Regions from separate parts of the Homo sapiens genome. Here region 2 is linked to region 1. The links come from fine-mapping of genetic effects on gene expression. Tissue or cell type: tibial nerve. Region 1 holds a variant in brackets; the other region holds the start of a gene. All regions are shown on one strand. Distances are between the middles of the regions.

Region 1 (8,105 bases):
TAAAAAAACCCAATAAATCCAATTGAATGTAGGAAAGGGGAAGAAACAGAAAAATACATGGTAAAAATTTTAAAAGGTGGTATTAAAAACTCCAATTTTATCAGTAATCACAATAAATTTAAATGACTTAGACCCATTTGTTCGGAGATATTCCCAGATAAGATTTTTAAAATCCAGTTATAAGTTGTTTATAACTGACCTAATAGTTAAAACATAATTATACAAAAAGCTTAAAAGTAGAAGGATAGGGAAAGATCATAAATACTAATAATCAAAGGAAATGAGATATAGTGACATTAATAGCAACCAGAAGAGATGTCATGGTTTTAAAAAACTTGAGATTTAAAGAGGGTGACTGTTCACTGACAAGAAGAACAATTGAATAGAAATCTATAGTGAAGCTGAACCTGATTGCTCATAATACTATAACCTCCTTAAAGATGACAGGATTATCAGGGAAAATTGACAGAGGATATTAAGCAAAATACATAGCAAAATTGACAGACTTGTGGGAGAAACTGACAAACCTACATTTGTAATGAGAAATTTTAACACTCCTTTTCCAGAAATTGATGAAACAGATAAAATTATTAACATTTGTTTGATGTCCATATATAAAATCTTGTTTCCAATAATTAAAGAGTACACTTCGTTTTCAAGTGGAACATTTAAAAACTTGCCAGGCGCGGTGGCTCATGCCTGTAATCCCAGCACTTTGGGAGGCTGAGGTGGGCGGATCACCTGAGGTCGGGAGTTTGAGACCAGCCTGGGCAACATGGAGAAGCCTGGTCTCTATTAAAAATACAAAATTAGTTGAGAATGGTGGTGCATGCCTCTAATCCCAGCTACTCCGGAGGCTGAGGCAGGAGAATCGCTTGAACCCAGGAGGTGGAGGTTGCAGTGAGCCGAGATGGCGCCACTGCACTCCAGCCTGGGCAACAAGAGCAAGACTCTGTCTAAAAAAAAAAAAAAAAATTAGATGGCCATGGTGGCAGGGGCCTGTAATCCTAGTTACTTGGGAGGCTGAGGCAGGAGAATCTCTCGAACACGGGAGACAGAGGTTGCAATGAGCCAAGATCGTGCCACTGTACTCCAGTCTGGGCGACAGAGTGAGACTCCATCTCAAAATAAATAGATAAATAAATAAATAAAAACTGACTATATAATAGGACACAAAGGAAGCGTTAACAGATAATAAAAATTTGATATATTAGTGACAGATTCTATGACTTCAGTGCAATAAAGTTATAAAACAATTTAAAAAATTGGGTCCAAAGCACCTCACTTATTTTCTTTATTGTAGTGAACTATATAATATGTATAAAAGAATATGTTAATACACAGAATTTAAAGAAATATACCGTAAACATCTATGTAACTGTCACCCAGATTAAAAAACAGTACATTTTGGCCGGGCGCAGTGGCTCACGCCTGTAATCCCAGCACTTTGGGAGGCTGAGATGGGTGGGTCACGAGGTCAGGAGATCGAGACTATCCTGGCTAACACAGTGAAACCCCGTCTATACTAAAAATACAAAAAAAAAAAAAAATTAGCCAGGTGTGGTGGCGGGTGCCTGTAGTCCCAGCTACTCGGGAGGCTGAGGCAGGAGAATGGCGTGAACCCAGGAGGTGGAGCTTGCAGTGAGCCGAGATCATGCCACCGCACCTCCAGCCTGGGTGACAGAGCGAGGCACTGTCTCAACAACAACAACAACAAAACTCAGTACATTTCCAGGATCTCAGAAACCTTATGTATACCCCTTTCCAGCTGTATTCTCTTCCTGTTCCCTAGGAAGAGGTATCCACCACTCTGACTCTTAGGGCAGAGGTCCCCAACCCCTAGGCCATGGTCCAGTACCAGTCTGTGGTCTGTTAGGAACCAGGCCGCACGGCAGGAGGTGAGCGGTGGGCCAGTGAGCATTACTGCCAGTGAGCTCTGCCTCCTGTCAGATCAGCGCGGCATTAGAGTCTCACGGGATCTCGAACCCTATTGTGGACTGTGCATGTGAGGGATCTAGGTTGCAAACTTCTATGAGAATCTAATCATCCCTCGCCCTATCTTTAGGGTACTCATTTTTGTGCTTTGTTCTTACTGTTTTACCACTTGTGTATGTGTTCCTAAACAGTGTTGATGAGTTTTGACTGTTTTTCATCTTTATGTTAATGGAATCGTATTTTCTATCCTCTGCCTGGTGTCTGGTCATGTGCTGGGTACAGAGAATATAGAGTTGAATTAGACAGGAGTCCTCCCATCAAAATGATCATATTTGGTTGCAGAAATGGTAATTGCCACAGTAGGAATTAAGCTGTGGAGTAGGGGTATCACATCACAATCATGTTGTTGAAAAAGAGACTTCTTAAAGGAGTTGAGAGTTGAAATGAATTTTAAAATGATTTGACTTATTTTCCAATAAGACAAGGGAGATGAGAATTGCCATCAGTGTGAACATCAACTGTAGATCAATTCAGCCTTGTCTTAGTCAAGATTTCAAACTAGCTTAGACCAAAAAAAAAAAAAGTTAAAAAAGATTTACATAAGTGAACAGTCCATGTGATATGACTTCAGGCAAGACTGGATCCAGAAGCTTAATTAATTGCCAGCTTTAATCTCTTTTTTTTTTAATTTTAGAAAATAGAGATGGGGGTCTCAGCATGTTGCCCAGGCTGGTCTTGAACTCCTGGGCTCAAGCGATCCTCCTGCCTTGGCCACCCAAAGTGCTGGGATTACAGGTGTGAGCCACTGTGCCTGGCCTCTATCTCTTTCTATATCTATCAGATAGACTTTCTCTACACAGTGAATCAGATGGTCCTCAAAAACCTCAGACTCACTTCCTGTTGGCTTACCATTACAAGTAAGTGGTGCTCTCTTTTGTAAGTTCAAGCCAAAATTCCCAGAGAAGATTCTAACAGGTCCTGTTTGGGCCATGTCCACATTCCTACATTAATCATTGTCCCTAGAAGAATAAGGTGTTCTTGTTGTTCTAGATCACAGACTAGATCACCTGCCCATCTTATCCAAACCACATAGAACTGGCTCCTCACATGAGAGAAGGATTCTGTTCCCAGAAGTGAGAAAAAATCCTAAGAAGGCAAAGGCAACTGGAGTCCACCTGCAGTATGAGAGGTCACTTAGCATTTGAGAAACCACAGGCTCTTTGGTGTGACTGGGGAGTGGGCTGAAGGGGGACATGATCAGAAAAGAAGTAGGCTGGGGAGGTGACAGAGATGCAGAATGCGTGGACAACCAAGTTTTATTTTATGCTGAACATAACAGAGGCTTTACAGTGATTGGAGAGATTGAAGCAGAGGGTGACAAATTCAAATGCTCATTTTAGGAGGCTCCCTCTGGGGCCTGCAGGAGAGAGGGCTGGAGTGCTAAGACTGTTACAATAATCCTGGTGAGGAGGCTGAAATGAGATAGCAGGAAGGGAAGCCTTGTGGGGCAGGGATCAGGGCATGATCAGGTAGGAAACTAAGAAAGAAGTCGACACCATAGATGGGGGTAATGAAGGACGGGATGATGAAGGGAGAAGAGTCAAGCGACAGTCACGTTTCACATCTGAGTTTCAGGTGAGGATGTGCATCACCAAGACGAGGAGCCTGAGTCTGATGGGCCTATTCTGTGGTGGCTGTGGCTTTGCTCTCTCCCCAGCTTCTAGCCTCGTGTTAGAAACGCTTGAGGTTCTTGGTAAACCCTTATGGGTAGACTAACCGGGAATTGAATTGAAATGCAGATTCTAAGTGTGGCTTATGCTTCAAGCTGCAGGTCTCCTTGAGGACCCATTGCCAAGGCCTCGACAGCCCCATTGAAGAGGGCTGGGACTGAGCCTGTGTGTGTGTGTCTGTCTATGTGTCTGTTCCTATCTCTTTGTTTGAATGGGATGATTTTTCGCATACACCCCCTGACCTCCCTATCCTTGACAGCCAGGTTCCCAAGCCCAGGCATCCTACTGGCCAGGACCAGATAGGCTGTTCCTCCCAATACCTACTCTGGCATGGGGGTGTATCCCAAGACATTCTCCTCCTCTAGTTCCTCCCTTCCCACCCCCGCCAAACCTTCCAGAGGAAATCCTGGAAAGACTAGAGTGACAGAATGCATATCCCTACTCTCGCTAGAGACTAGGCTTCAGAGGGACCTGGCCATAGACAGGTGCTGCACCCTGCTGTGTGTCAGGTGCTCTGCAATGCCTTCTCTCCACTCACACTCACAACACTCTACGAGGCTAATAGTAGCACTACCCCCAATTGACAGGTGAGGACCTGAAGCCCAGAGAGGCAAACTGCATTGCCTGAAGCCCCTAATTGGTAATTATGGGATCTAAGTGCAAGTCTAATCAGAAGGTTGTGGGCTTCAGCCTCCCTGGGACTGTTGTCAGGAGGCAGGCAGCTGGAAGTGGTAGGGTCCCAGGCTCTTTAGAGAAGAAGCTGGGCTCCAGAAGGGGTAGACCAGAAGCCCAGCTTTCCTGGACCCACACCAGCCCCTCCCTGTTGGGTCTGGGTTTCTGGGGGCCCACGCAGCTGATGGTGATAGGCCAGAGAGGGTTGGTGGAGATGGGGGGAAGGGCTGGAGGTGTGGGTGGCTGGGGGTGGGTTAATGCTGCTGCCTTATGAAGGACATTTTTCAACTGAGCCGGTAACTGGAGGCCCTGTGA[G/A]TGTGTTCTGTCTCAGCAACTCCACAATCAGAGGATATGAACTGGCTGTGAGAAAGACATCAGGGGCTGGCTATTCCCAAACTCTTAGAAGGCACAGAGCTAGATTTAATAAAAGGAGAAAATGGAACATTCTCATTAGCACCAGATTTTCCATTTAATTTGGACTTTTACAAAATAAGTAGCCTAATTACTGCCATGATTTGAGCTTCTCAATAGGTTTTTCCTCTAAGAAGCTGCAGACGCCACACAAGCCCCATTCTCCAGGGCTCGCCCTTGTGCCACAGACCCTCACCGCCCCTGCTTCTCTGGAAGCAGAAAGGCTTCTGAGGCCTGAGCGGGGAGGCAGGGCAAGGCACGGGAGGAGCGCAGGTGTGCTGGCTCAGCTGACCTCTCAGGGCCCTCCCTGCCCCTCCTGGGCCCCCAGCTCTCAGCAGCCAGTGGGGAAGATGCTATTCCGGAGCCTGCACGCCTCAGCACTGGCCTAGCCTGTGTCTGAGCCCTGGCCCGAGTCTTGCCTGAGTCTCAGCACAGGGCCTAGGAGGTTGCTGAACTAAGGTGAGGTGCCAGTACCTTCACCCCAGGGCTCTGTTCTTGGCCTATAGAAATGACTGTAGCCCTGCAGTGTCAGCACACAAACCATTTACACCGACCTCCCAGCACTAGAGAGGCTGAAGAGCAGGACTGACGCAGCCCCAGCCTGGGGCTCCAGCTCCCTTCTGGACCCTCAAGGGCACTTGCTGTCCCCATTAGGATGAAACCTGGGTGCCTCAGGCTGGAGTGACCTCCTTCATCTCTTTTCATACCTCCCCCATATCCCCCACATCCCCCTCCCTATTCTCCACCTCGGCCTTTGGCTTTTTCCTCTTCCTTCTGCGCTTGAAGAGAATCCGGGATTAAAGAAACGGAGCAAGAAATTGCCAAGAACTAGCCTCGCAGACAATCAGATAGAGGGATGGAGGGCAGGGGCCCTTCCCCCAAGAGGAGCCTGGGCCGTCCAGCCTGATGGGGCCTGGGAGACACGGGGTGTGCTGGCGGGCAGGGGCCATGTCCCGGGTGTGCACAGTGCTGGAAACATCCTCCTCAGCCATGACCTAAACCCAAGTCCTCTTTTGTCCCAGAGAATCAGTCCCAGCAAAGGTCTCACTGCTGGGCCCTTGTCCTAGGTACACTCTTCTACCCCATCCGTCCCCTGCCAAGGAAAGCAAACCCCTCTCTGGCCCCTCTCCAAACCAAGCCCTGCTGGCCCAACACCCCCAAGGGCTCCAGGCCCTGCCGCAGCCTCAGTCCCCTAGTTTTTCCCCCACTTCTCCAAGGAAGAAAGAGGTAACCCCAAGCCCCTTATGGAAGAGTAGTTGGAGGGATGTGAGGAGGCACCAAGAGAGATGTTATTACTAGGATTTTGGTAAAATAAGGTGAGATGTTTTCCTGGGGAGCTGTGAGGTCCCTCTGACCTGGAGGAGGCTCTTATTATATCGGCAATTTCTTGAGCCAGCCCCTTCGCAGGGGTCAAGGAGGACACAGAGGAGAGTCAGGTGCAGTCTCTGTTCTCATGGAGGGCTCAGGTTAGTGGGAAAGAAGTAGGTGATGTTCTCCCCATTTGTAGATGAAGACCAGAGCCTCAGAGATGTTGGGTGACATGCCCAAAGTCATCCAGCTGGGAAGTAGGAGAGCTGGGATTCATTCGTACTTCAGGGCAGGGCCTATGTCTATTTGCTTTTCATCACCGTAATGTCCAATATACATACAGCAGAGCGTGCGAGTCGATGGCTTGTTATGTATGTGCTCACCCATGGAATCACCACCCAGATCAAGGTCTCGGTCACTTCAAGCATTCCAGAAGGCTCCTTTATGCCCCCTCCAAGTCAGTACACCCCCACAGAGTTCCTCTCTATTCTGCAAATCCTGGCACGTTTTTTGTGGGGTGAGGGGTGACATTTCTTGGCCCAGGTGACTCCCTGCTGATGCTGTAACTCAGCTGTCCTGCAAAGATGGCATGGCCCAGCACCCAGCTGGCACACAACAAGAAACCCTGGCACTCTGGAGGGTGAAGAGAGGTGCTGTGGATAATGCCGGGACCACAAGGGTTAACAGGGGCTGTCCCAGCCTCACCTTCTCAACCCGGCCCTGGTGAGCCAAAGTTTTTGGTGGGAGGTGGCAGGGGCAGTGTGCTCATCTGTGGTAGCACAGACCTGGTCCTCCAGCCTCTTCTAGTGACCTCCCAGTCTCAGGACTCACCCAGGAGAGTGGTGGTAAGGGAGCTAATGCTCTCTGGGGTCTAGAACAGGCTTCCTTTGCCCCTGGTTTCAGGCTGTGCTTTCCTTAAGAGAGGACTTCAGAGGCAGCTAGAGGAGCCTCCATGTCTGCCATCCATAGACAATGGAGACTTAGGAAGCAGCACCCCATACCCCTGTCCAGCCAACTGCCCCAAGAGGCCTTCCCAAGCCTATGGGCCCCAGACCCCTAGCACCACAGCCAAGACCCTCACCTGCTCCACCCCACCCCGCCCCATCTGCATCCACGGGCCAGTGGGGGACCATTCAGTGAGATCCTCCCTGTCCTACGGCCTTGGCCGTGACCCCAGCTTGGCCTCTTTGTCTCTCAGCCAGGCCAGCCAGTTCAGCGTTAAAGCTGCTGGAGCATCCAAGGAGACATAAAGAAAGTTTAGAGACTTTTAATTTGCCAGCACGGCTCTCCGCTGGCCAGCAGGTTGAGCGTTTGTGGAGAAGGGCAGCCGCAATAAAGGCTTATTGTTCCTCTCTGAACCACTGCTCGTGACTCCTTTCTTAAGTGAGACAAAGGGAACCCAAGGCCCACAGGTGTCCCCAGGCCCAGAAAGCGGGGCCCACAATTAGCTAAAGTCCCCCAGGGTCAGGCTCTGGGGGTGGGGGCCCAACTCAGCCCCTGTCTAGGCTGTACTCACAGGAGAGCACAAGCCTGGGACATTGTCGGCAGGGAAATACTCTCCAGTGGGGACCCCAGGGCACCAGGAGACAGGACTCCCACAGGGAGGGGGCCAGAGCCCCCTGCAGAAGCACCACACGGAAGAGCAGCTGCAGGGGAGCCGCGGGGATGGGCCTCGTGGTCAGGGTCCTCCCTGGGTGCAGTGGGGGTGTCCCGGGAAAGGCTTCCAACAGCCAGAGAGGCATCTCTGGAGGGAGAGAGTTCCCCACCACAGGGAGCATGTGAGCTGGGAGGGCACCCAGAGGGAAGGTGGGGCTCCAGCTGAGCAGGTCACTTCCAGTGCCCAAAAGGCCAGACTTAGGAAGCCCAATCAGACCCTCTTGGCTGGGCAGAGAAAAGGCAGAGCACAGGAATGTGGTGACCCCCACAGAGACACCCTGCCACTGAGGCAGCCACTGGGAGCCAGGTAGCCACACCCCTGGGGAGAGGTGGCACCATGTCCCATAGCATGCCTTGCTGGGACCACCCAGAATCACATCCCATAGGCAGCAC
Region 2 (8,105 bases), 140 kb before region 1:
AACCTTGAAAACATTATGCTAGTTAAAAGACGTCAGTCACAAAAGATCAGATATTATATGATTTCATTTATACCAAATGTCCAGAACAGGCAAATCTATAGAGACATAAAGTAGATGAGTGGTTGCCTAGGGCTGGAGGTGGGCTGGGGGATTTGTGGAGTAATAGCTAAAAAGTACAGGGTTTCTTTGGGGGCTGAAGAAATATTCTAAAATTGGTTGTAGTGATGGTTGTACAACTCTGAATATGCTGAAACCCAATAAATTGTACACTTTAAGTGGGTGAATTGTATGATATATAAATTAGATCTCAAGAAAGCTGTTATCAAAAAAAAAAAAGACTTCCCTCCTCTATGTTCTATGAAACCTGTTTTTTGGGGTTTTTTTTTTGTTTTGTTTTGTTTTTTTTTTTGGCAGAGTCTCACTGTGTTGCCCAGGCTGCAGTGCAGTTACACAATCACACCTCACTGTAGCCTTGACCTCCAAACTTCAAACGATCCTCCCACCTCAGCCTACAGAGTAGCTGGGGCTACAGGTGCACACCACCATGCCCAGCTAATTGAAAAAAAACAAACTTATTTTGTAGAGATGGGGGTCTTGTTATGTGGCCCAAGCTGGTCTCGAACTCCCAGGCTCAAGCAATCCTTCCACCACAGCCTTTCAAAATGCTGGGATTACAGGCATGAGCTGTCACACCTGGTTTATGAAACCCTTCTTAAGTCCCAATAACACTGACCATTGCATACATGTCTCCATTGTTCCCTGCGCAGACTTGAGTAACTGTGACTGACACTCTTGCATTTATCTGCTAACATGTCTGTTTTGCATTTATCTGTTGACATGTCTACTTTCCTTTACTAAACTGTGGCCGCCTCAAAGCATGGAGTTCGCTCATTTTTTCTTGGAATACATAGTGTCTATACACTATGTGCACAGTATGTGATATGGTACATCATAAATATTTGTTAAAAGACTATCTTAAAGGCTTTCATGTGGAAAGGGAACTGTGCTTGTTTCATGCACATCAATGGGCAAAAATGGAAGACATAACAACATGTATTTTTAAGAATTTTCAAATACTCAGGGTTATTCCTTTCTTCAAAGCAGGGATTTCTGGGTTCTGAGAATTCTCTGAATTGATACTGAAATTCTGAGTACAATAAGAGTATGTACCTTTTTCTAGAGAGAACATACAGTTTTAGGCTGAGTGCAGTTGCTCAAGCCTGTAATCCCAGCACTTTGGAAGGCTGAGGCAGAAGGATCACTTGAACCCACGAGTTCGACACCAGCCTGGACAATACAATGAGACCCCCATCTCAACCAAAAACAAAAAAAATTTTTTTTAATTAGCCAGGCATGGTGGCATGTGCCTGTAGTCCCAGTTACTTGGGAGGCTGAGGTGGGAGGATCAGTTGAGCCCTAGAAGTAGAGGCTGCAGTGAGCTGTGATCATGACTCTGCACTCCAGCCTGGGTGACAGAGTGAGACCCAGGGAAAGGGAAAGAGAAAGGGAAAGGGGGCCAGGAAGAGAGGAAAGGAGGGAGGGAGGGACAGAGGGAGGAAGGAGAGAGAAAGAAAGAAAATACATAGCTTTTATAAGATTCTCAATGGTGTATGTAACCCCAAAATGGTTAAGATTTTTTGCTGCAAGTTTCAGTTACTGGAATGTACCATTCAAGGTAAGTTTTTTCCTAGGTTATACTACTTCAGTAGCTTCTCCTTGTCAAAAACAGAATTTACAGTATTGGTAGCTTAATAATCTTAAAGTATTTATTGACTGCCCATTATATGCCAGGTACTGAAGAAACAGTGGTAAACAAGACAAAGTCCCTACCCTTGCAAACTTACATTCTAGAAGGTGAAGACAAAAAAACAAACAAGTAAACACTTAAGAATATTCCATATCATATAGTGATGCCTATCATGAAGAATATAAAACATGATAAAATAGAGAATGATGGGAGAAAAGAGTTATTTTAGTTAGTGTCATCAGGGGAAGTCTCTCTGAGGAGGTTTCATTTGAGCAGAAATTTGAATGATGAGAAGGGCACTGAGGGAAAAGCACAGCACTTCAGGAATAAAGAGAACTGAAGGTACAAAGATCCTAACATGAGAACACTGAATACCAACACTTGAGTTCTCAAGGGAACAACCCATGTCTAATCTCCACTCTACATTTTCTACAACGTTCAGAAGAGTGTCTCCCACTCACAGTCAATAGTACTTGTTCAAGATAATTCACCATAATGGAAAGTAAAAAAAAAAAAAAAAAAGTTTTCGAAGAATCTTCACTGTTCAGGATCATCATGAATTGACTCTTCTTCAAAGTAGACAATATCATTAGACAAAGCAGGTAAAAATCTTTGGGATTATTGCAATAAGACAGAAAGGAAAAAAAAAGAACAAATACGCAAAGATGTTTTAGAAGTCCGTCCCAAGTGGATAGTCTTACAAGCATAAAGATTATCAGGCAAATTCTGTAAACAGAATTATGTGTTCAACCTGCCCTCCACCCCTAAAGCTTGGTGCTTTGCATTTATAGTGTGTATGATGCTCAAGAGAATGGAACTACAGTCAATGTGCATAAAGCAGACGGAAGTGGATTACAGTTCAAAAGGAGCTGTCCAGCAATCAACAGTTTAAACATTACTGGAAGTGTTCAGACACCGTAAAATCATGTCTCAAAGATATTACAAGGATAATTTACAGGAGAAAGTTACCAGTAGAACTTCATGACCTATAGAAAACTGTTCTGGTTCCTTCTCCCAGCCTTCAGCACCGTGCCTTTACACTCATTCTGTAAAAGGCCCCAGTGCAGCTAAGAGGATGAATTTTTAAACACCACATACATCATGCCAACAACGAAGAATTAACAGATAAATACTGTTTCAATAAGGGGAACGTAATAATTTGTTCATAACCACCTCAGTAACTGAAACTGGGGTTATTAAAATCTTCAAGATATATTTTTAAAGGCACAAGAAGAGCCTGAAGCAGTGAGCGCCCAGCACCAAGTTGAAAAAACATAACGACTTAAGGTTTGCTGTACCAATTCCATTTGCCTTGATTTCGTACCAAGCGGCGCGTCAGAAAGTACACGGAAAACCTAAAGAGGGAAACCCAACTGGGAACCCTTGACTCAAAGCACGTGAACAAATGGTGACGAGATGAGTTAAGCCAGCGGGGTAAGAGAGAAGGGACTGCGCCTAAACGGGAGTACGCAAGGCCACCTAGAGGATGCACAGACCTGCATGCATACGTTCCTGACCCTTCCAGCAGCAGAACCATCTGGGCCGCCACCCGCTGATAACAACGGAACCGTGGGCATTGGCCCTTCAACGCCGTCTCGCCCGCCCTCTCCAGTCAGTTTGGTGGATATTTCGGTGAAGGCTGCAGACTCTCAGAGTCACCCCTCCCTCAAGCAGCGTTCTCCGTACTCTTCGGCGCCGGGAAGCTCAGAGGGAGCTGGCCTGCTCTTACCTTCAGGTGTCGGCGGCGGCTCCTGCCGCTTCCCGCGGGACAGGAAGGCCTTGGGCAGCAGCAGCGACAGAGCCAGGACAAGCCCAGAAGCCAGAGCGACTCTCTGCACTGTGGAGTACGCCATGACTGCTCACGGTGGTCGCAGGTGCAGACGCCAGCCGGAACCGGAACCGGAACCGGAGCACGGGCTGCCGCTCCCGACCGAACCGCGGGCGGCGCGGACGGCGTCGCGCGAGGGACAAGGTGCGCGAGGCGCACGCATCTTCACCTCCACTGTCGGGAGTTGACCTGCTCCTCCCGCGTGGTTACCCGTCGCTGTAAATGGTACCCTCGCCTTCCCGTTCATACTAACTAAAAACTCCTCCCTCACTCCCCATGTTCATCTTTTACTGAGTCCTGTGCATTCTACCGCCTACACATCCGGCGGTCGTGCCCGGATCTCTATCCCCACTTACCACCACTGCCCCCCACCCACCCGTAGATCACAACATCCAGTTTCTCCTCATCTCCATGATCTCGCTGTCTTCCAGCTTCCACTCATGCCCCTCGCATTCATTATCCGTCTGCAGCCACAGGTGATAATGCTAAAACACAAGACTAATTCTCTTTCTCTCCAGCTTAAACCTTTTAACTCTCCATTATCTTCAGAACAATAGTTAAACTCCTTTCTATAACCTCAACGCCCTGCATGATCTGGTCTTACCAATGCTCCTTCCAAACTGGATGATTTGCTATTTCTTTAGCATATTGCTTGTCTTCAGGGAAGCTTTGCTTGTCCTGTTCCCACTGCCTGGAAAATTCCTGACACCATCTCCAGTTGTCAAAAACTTCTCTGAAGAACAGCTTAAAAACACTGCTCTCTCGAAACGTTTTCAGTCAGCCTCTCCTTTCTCTACAATCCCACCGTTCTTTGTTACTCTCTTCATTCGTTCATTTAACATTATTTTAGTTTTTACTATGTATTAGACCCTCAACTTGGCACTACAGGGTCTGATGAATAAAATGGATTCCCTTTGTAGGACAGATAATTATCCAAACAAAAAAAATGCAGGAAATATTCTGGATCCCCGAGCAGTCTTCTCAACTGGTACGAGGAAAAGTCAAGAAAAGCCCCTTTGAGAAGGTGAAATTGAGTTAGCTGTTGAAAAATGAGTAACTTATAGGCAGACAGGTGGGAGGGGTTAGAAAGGTATTCCGGAAAAAGGAGGCCAAAAAAATAAAGGCAAATCTGGAAGCTTCCTGGTGTGTTCAGAAAGCTATTGGTAATTCATTTTGGCAGGGCCATAGAGTAGTGACAGGACACGAAGTGCACAAATATAAGCAGGAGCTACATTGTGAAAAGCTTAGGTAGAACTTCCAGTTAAACATGACAGATGTAACATATGCATTTATCTTTGCTTTCCTGGGACAGTGCCCAAAAAGGAAAATAAAGAAATAAAGTATATAAACTACAAGACTAAATGCAATGATAGAAAACATGACAGCAGATGAGAAATGTCAATTTTGTAAGACGCACACAACACTGTCCAATAGACACATAATACCAGCCACATATGTAATTTAAATTTTTCCAGTAGCCACATTTAAAAAGTAAAAATAAGTAAAATTTATTTTAATAATATTTTAAACCAAGATAGCAAAAATATTTCAAATTTTATCAGCACGATAGTGTGGCTCGTTGGCGCCCACAGTAGACAGTGCAGGTGTAGAGCATAAAAAGTTAAATGCCTGTGGACTGAAAGCCTGTAAGGAGTGAACTAATTTGCCCCTCAGAACCCATGCTCTTAAGAATTGGAGGTACTGGGTTCCTTTAAAGCCAAGGGTGCAGAGTGGGTCTGAATGAAGGATTGGCTGGAAATCTGATTAAAAAGCAGTTGAGACTGGGCACAGTGGCTCACACCTATAATCCCAGGGCTTTGGGAGGCCAAGGCTGGAGGATGGCTTGAGGCCAAGAGTTCAAGGCCAGCCTGGGCAACATAGGGAGAGCCCTAATCTCTACCAAAAAAATGTAAAAAATTAACCAGGCATGGTGGTGTGCACCTGTAGTCCCAACTACTCAGGAAGCTGAGGTGGGAAGATCACTTGAGCCCAAGAGTTTGAGGCTGCAGTGAGCTATGATTGTGTGAAACCACAATTAATTATGATATATAAGATGATAATAATGCCTGAATGAAGCCAGTAGGGGCACCCACTCCAGCCAGGGTGACAGAGTGAGACCCTGTCTCTAAAAAAAAATTGTTTGATTTTTTTAAAGCAATGGATATCTTCTGAATCTCTTTCCTTGATTCATGCAGCCAGATGGGTGCCACTGCTGGCTTCACTCGGGCATTATTATCATTGATGTTATTAACATCACTAAAAGTTAGAGTACTAATTATGTTTTAGGCATCTTACATATCATAATTATTCCTCCCAATAACTTCAAGAGGTAAGCAATATTATTATATACCCATTTCACAGGTAAGAAAATGGAGCCCCAGAAAACATAATTTACTTGCCAACAATTACACAGTATAAACTGGATGCTATGATTTGAACACAGGCATGCTTACTCAAGAATTTGCCCTCTTAGCTACCAGGTTTACTGTCTGGGGAGGTTTAGTCAGAAAACCTCTGGACTCCTGGACTATAGATGCAGCTTAGGGAGGAGGTGACTAATGGGATGTGGTCTCTAAGAAATACAGAGGGGTCTGGAATGACCACACTCCCCCCCGCCCTCCGCCACCAAATTCTAGCTTGGGTAAATGGTAGACATTAATTCTATATAACATGATTTTAAGAATAGAAGAATCAGGTTTGTGAGAAAGATGAAGAGTTCAGATTTTGACTAGCTGAATTTGAAGTTCCATGAAATATCCAAGTAGAAATATCCAGTTGGATATATGGGCCTGGAGCTCAGAAGAGATGTTTGGGCTAGAAACAATAGGAAATCATCAGCCCATCTATAGTAAATGAAGTCTAGGAGAAGATGGCATTAGTGAGAGTGCTCATGTGAAGTTGTAAGAAGCCACAATGGAAACCTAGGTCACAACATTATGTTGAAGTTCCCATGTATGAGGACAGAAATGAGGTGGGAAATAGTGATCCAAGTGTTAAAATCTTTAATGAATGTGGAGTTACTACAAGGTTGGAAGGTGACAGGAACAGAAGAAGTAATGGGCAGCCAGATGACATGCTCTTCTAAGGAGCTGTGTTTTTTTTTAATTGTTTAAAAATTTTTATTTATTTATTTATTTATTTATTTATTTTTGAGATGGAGTCTTGCTCTGTTGCCCAGGCTGGAGTGCAGTGGTGCAATCTCGGCTCACTACAAGCTCCGCCTCCTGGCTTCACGCCATTCTCCTGCCTCAGCCTCCCAAGTAGCAGGGACCACAGGTGCCCGCCACCACGCCCGGCTAATTTTTTTGTTGTATTTTTAGTAGAGATGGGGTTTCACTATGTTAGCCAGGATGGTCTCGATCCTTGTTATGCACCCACCTCAGCCTCCCAAAGTGCTGGGATTACAGGCATGAGCCACAGCGCCTGGCCAGGAGCTATGGTTTTTAAAGGAAGAAGAGGAAGAAGCAATTTGGAAGCAGCAAGGGGAAACAAGTTGGGCATCTATTCTATTCCCAGGCTTTAAGCTGTGGGAAGAAAAATAGCTCTTACTTTGGGAGATCTGCAAGGGAAACAGAACCCAGAGGCAACAGCCTAGTTTTCATTAGAGGAAGACAGGCCGGGCGCAGTGGCTTATGTCTGTAATCCCAGCACTTTGGGAGGCCAAGGGGGGCGGATCACGAGGTCAAGAAATCAAGACCATCCTGGCCAACATGCTGAAACCCACCTCTACTAAAAATACAAAAATTAGCTGGGCGTGATGACATGCGCCTGTAATCCCAGCTACTTGGGAGGCTGAGGCAGGAGAATCGCTTGAACCCAGGAGGCAGAGGTCGCAGTGAGCTGAGATCGCGCCACTGCACTCCAGCCTGGTGACAGAGTGAGACTCCATCTCAAAATAAAAAAAAAAGAAAAAAGAAGAAGAAAGTTAAGAGAAACTTCAAAGAAGTCAAGGATATAGGAGTTTTTCTGATGATAGCTCTTGACTCTATACAGCACGGTAAGTGGAAGCTTTGGAAGTCAGAAATGGAGTCAAAGTAAAATATGAAGTGAGCAGGATGGAGATGAGGGGCAGTGTGCAAATTGATGACCTTGGGGGCTTGGAATTTAGATGGTGGCCAAGGTAAATGGGCAGAGATCGTGATCTCATTAGTCCTAGAAGTGGCCTAGAGAAAGGTGAAAACACAGTTATAGTACAGAGTATTTGGCTTGGAACATATTCATTGTTGCAGTCAGTTGGGATGTGCACCTGGAAGACATGGAAGCCTCCTTAAGGCGACAGAGCTGGTAGGCAGCTCATGGAGCTGGGGCAGCTTGGAGTGGGACCTGGGATGGCTGCTCTCTCTGGTGGCTGGTGGTATAACATCAGAGCTGGGAGTGCACTAAAATTGAAGATCTTAAGGGTTTAGGTTTTCCAATAAAGTATTGGTAGGGGGCTGGGCGTGGTGGCTTAGGCCTATAATCCTAGCACTTTGGGAGGCCTAGGTGGGTGGATCACCTGAGGTCAGGAGTTCGAGACCAGCCTGGCCAACG

Evidence for each region. PIP is the estimated chance that this variant, and not a neighbour inherited with it, causes the effect.
Region 2: RIC3 starts here. The variant in region 1 is fine-mapped to the expression of RIC3 in tibial nerve (GTEx, PIP above 0.99). The same link has a PIP of 0.9 or more in esophagus muscle, gastroesophageal junction, lung, sigmoid colon, subcutaneous fat and tibial artery.

What each region holds. Positions count from the first base shown.
Region 1 is chr11:8,305,899-8,314,003 of GRCh38, forward strand. No RefSeq gene overlaps it. Among named protein-coding and RNA genes, the nearest start is that of LMO1, 46 kb to the left of the region's middle. The variant G/A (reference allele first, on the strand shown) is at 4,653.
Region 2 is chr11:8,165,390-8,173,494 of GRCh38, forward strand. It overlaps RIC3 (RIC3 acetylcholine receptor chaperone), which reads right to left and starts at 3,636. Exons shown (of 6, transcript NM_001206671.4): 1 at 3,477-3,636. The coding sequence starts at 3,600. RIC3-DT (RIC3 divergent transcript) reads left to right here and starts at 3,681. Exons shown (of 5, transcript NR_187234.1): 1 at 3,681-3,800; 2 at 4,496-4,599.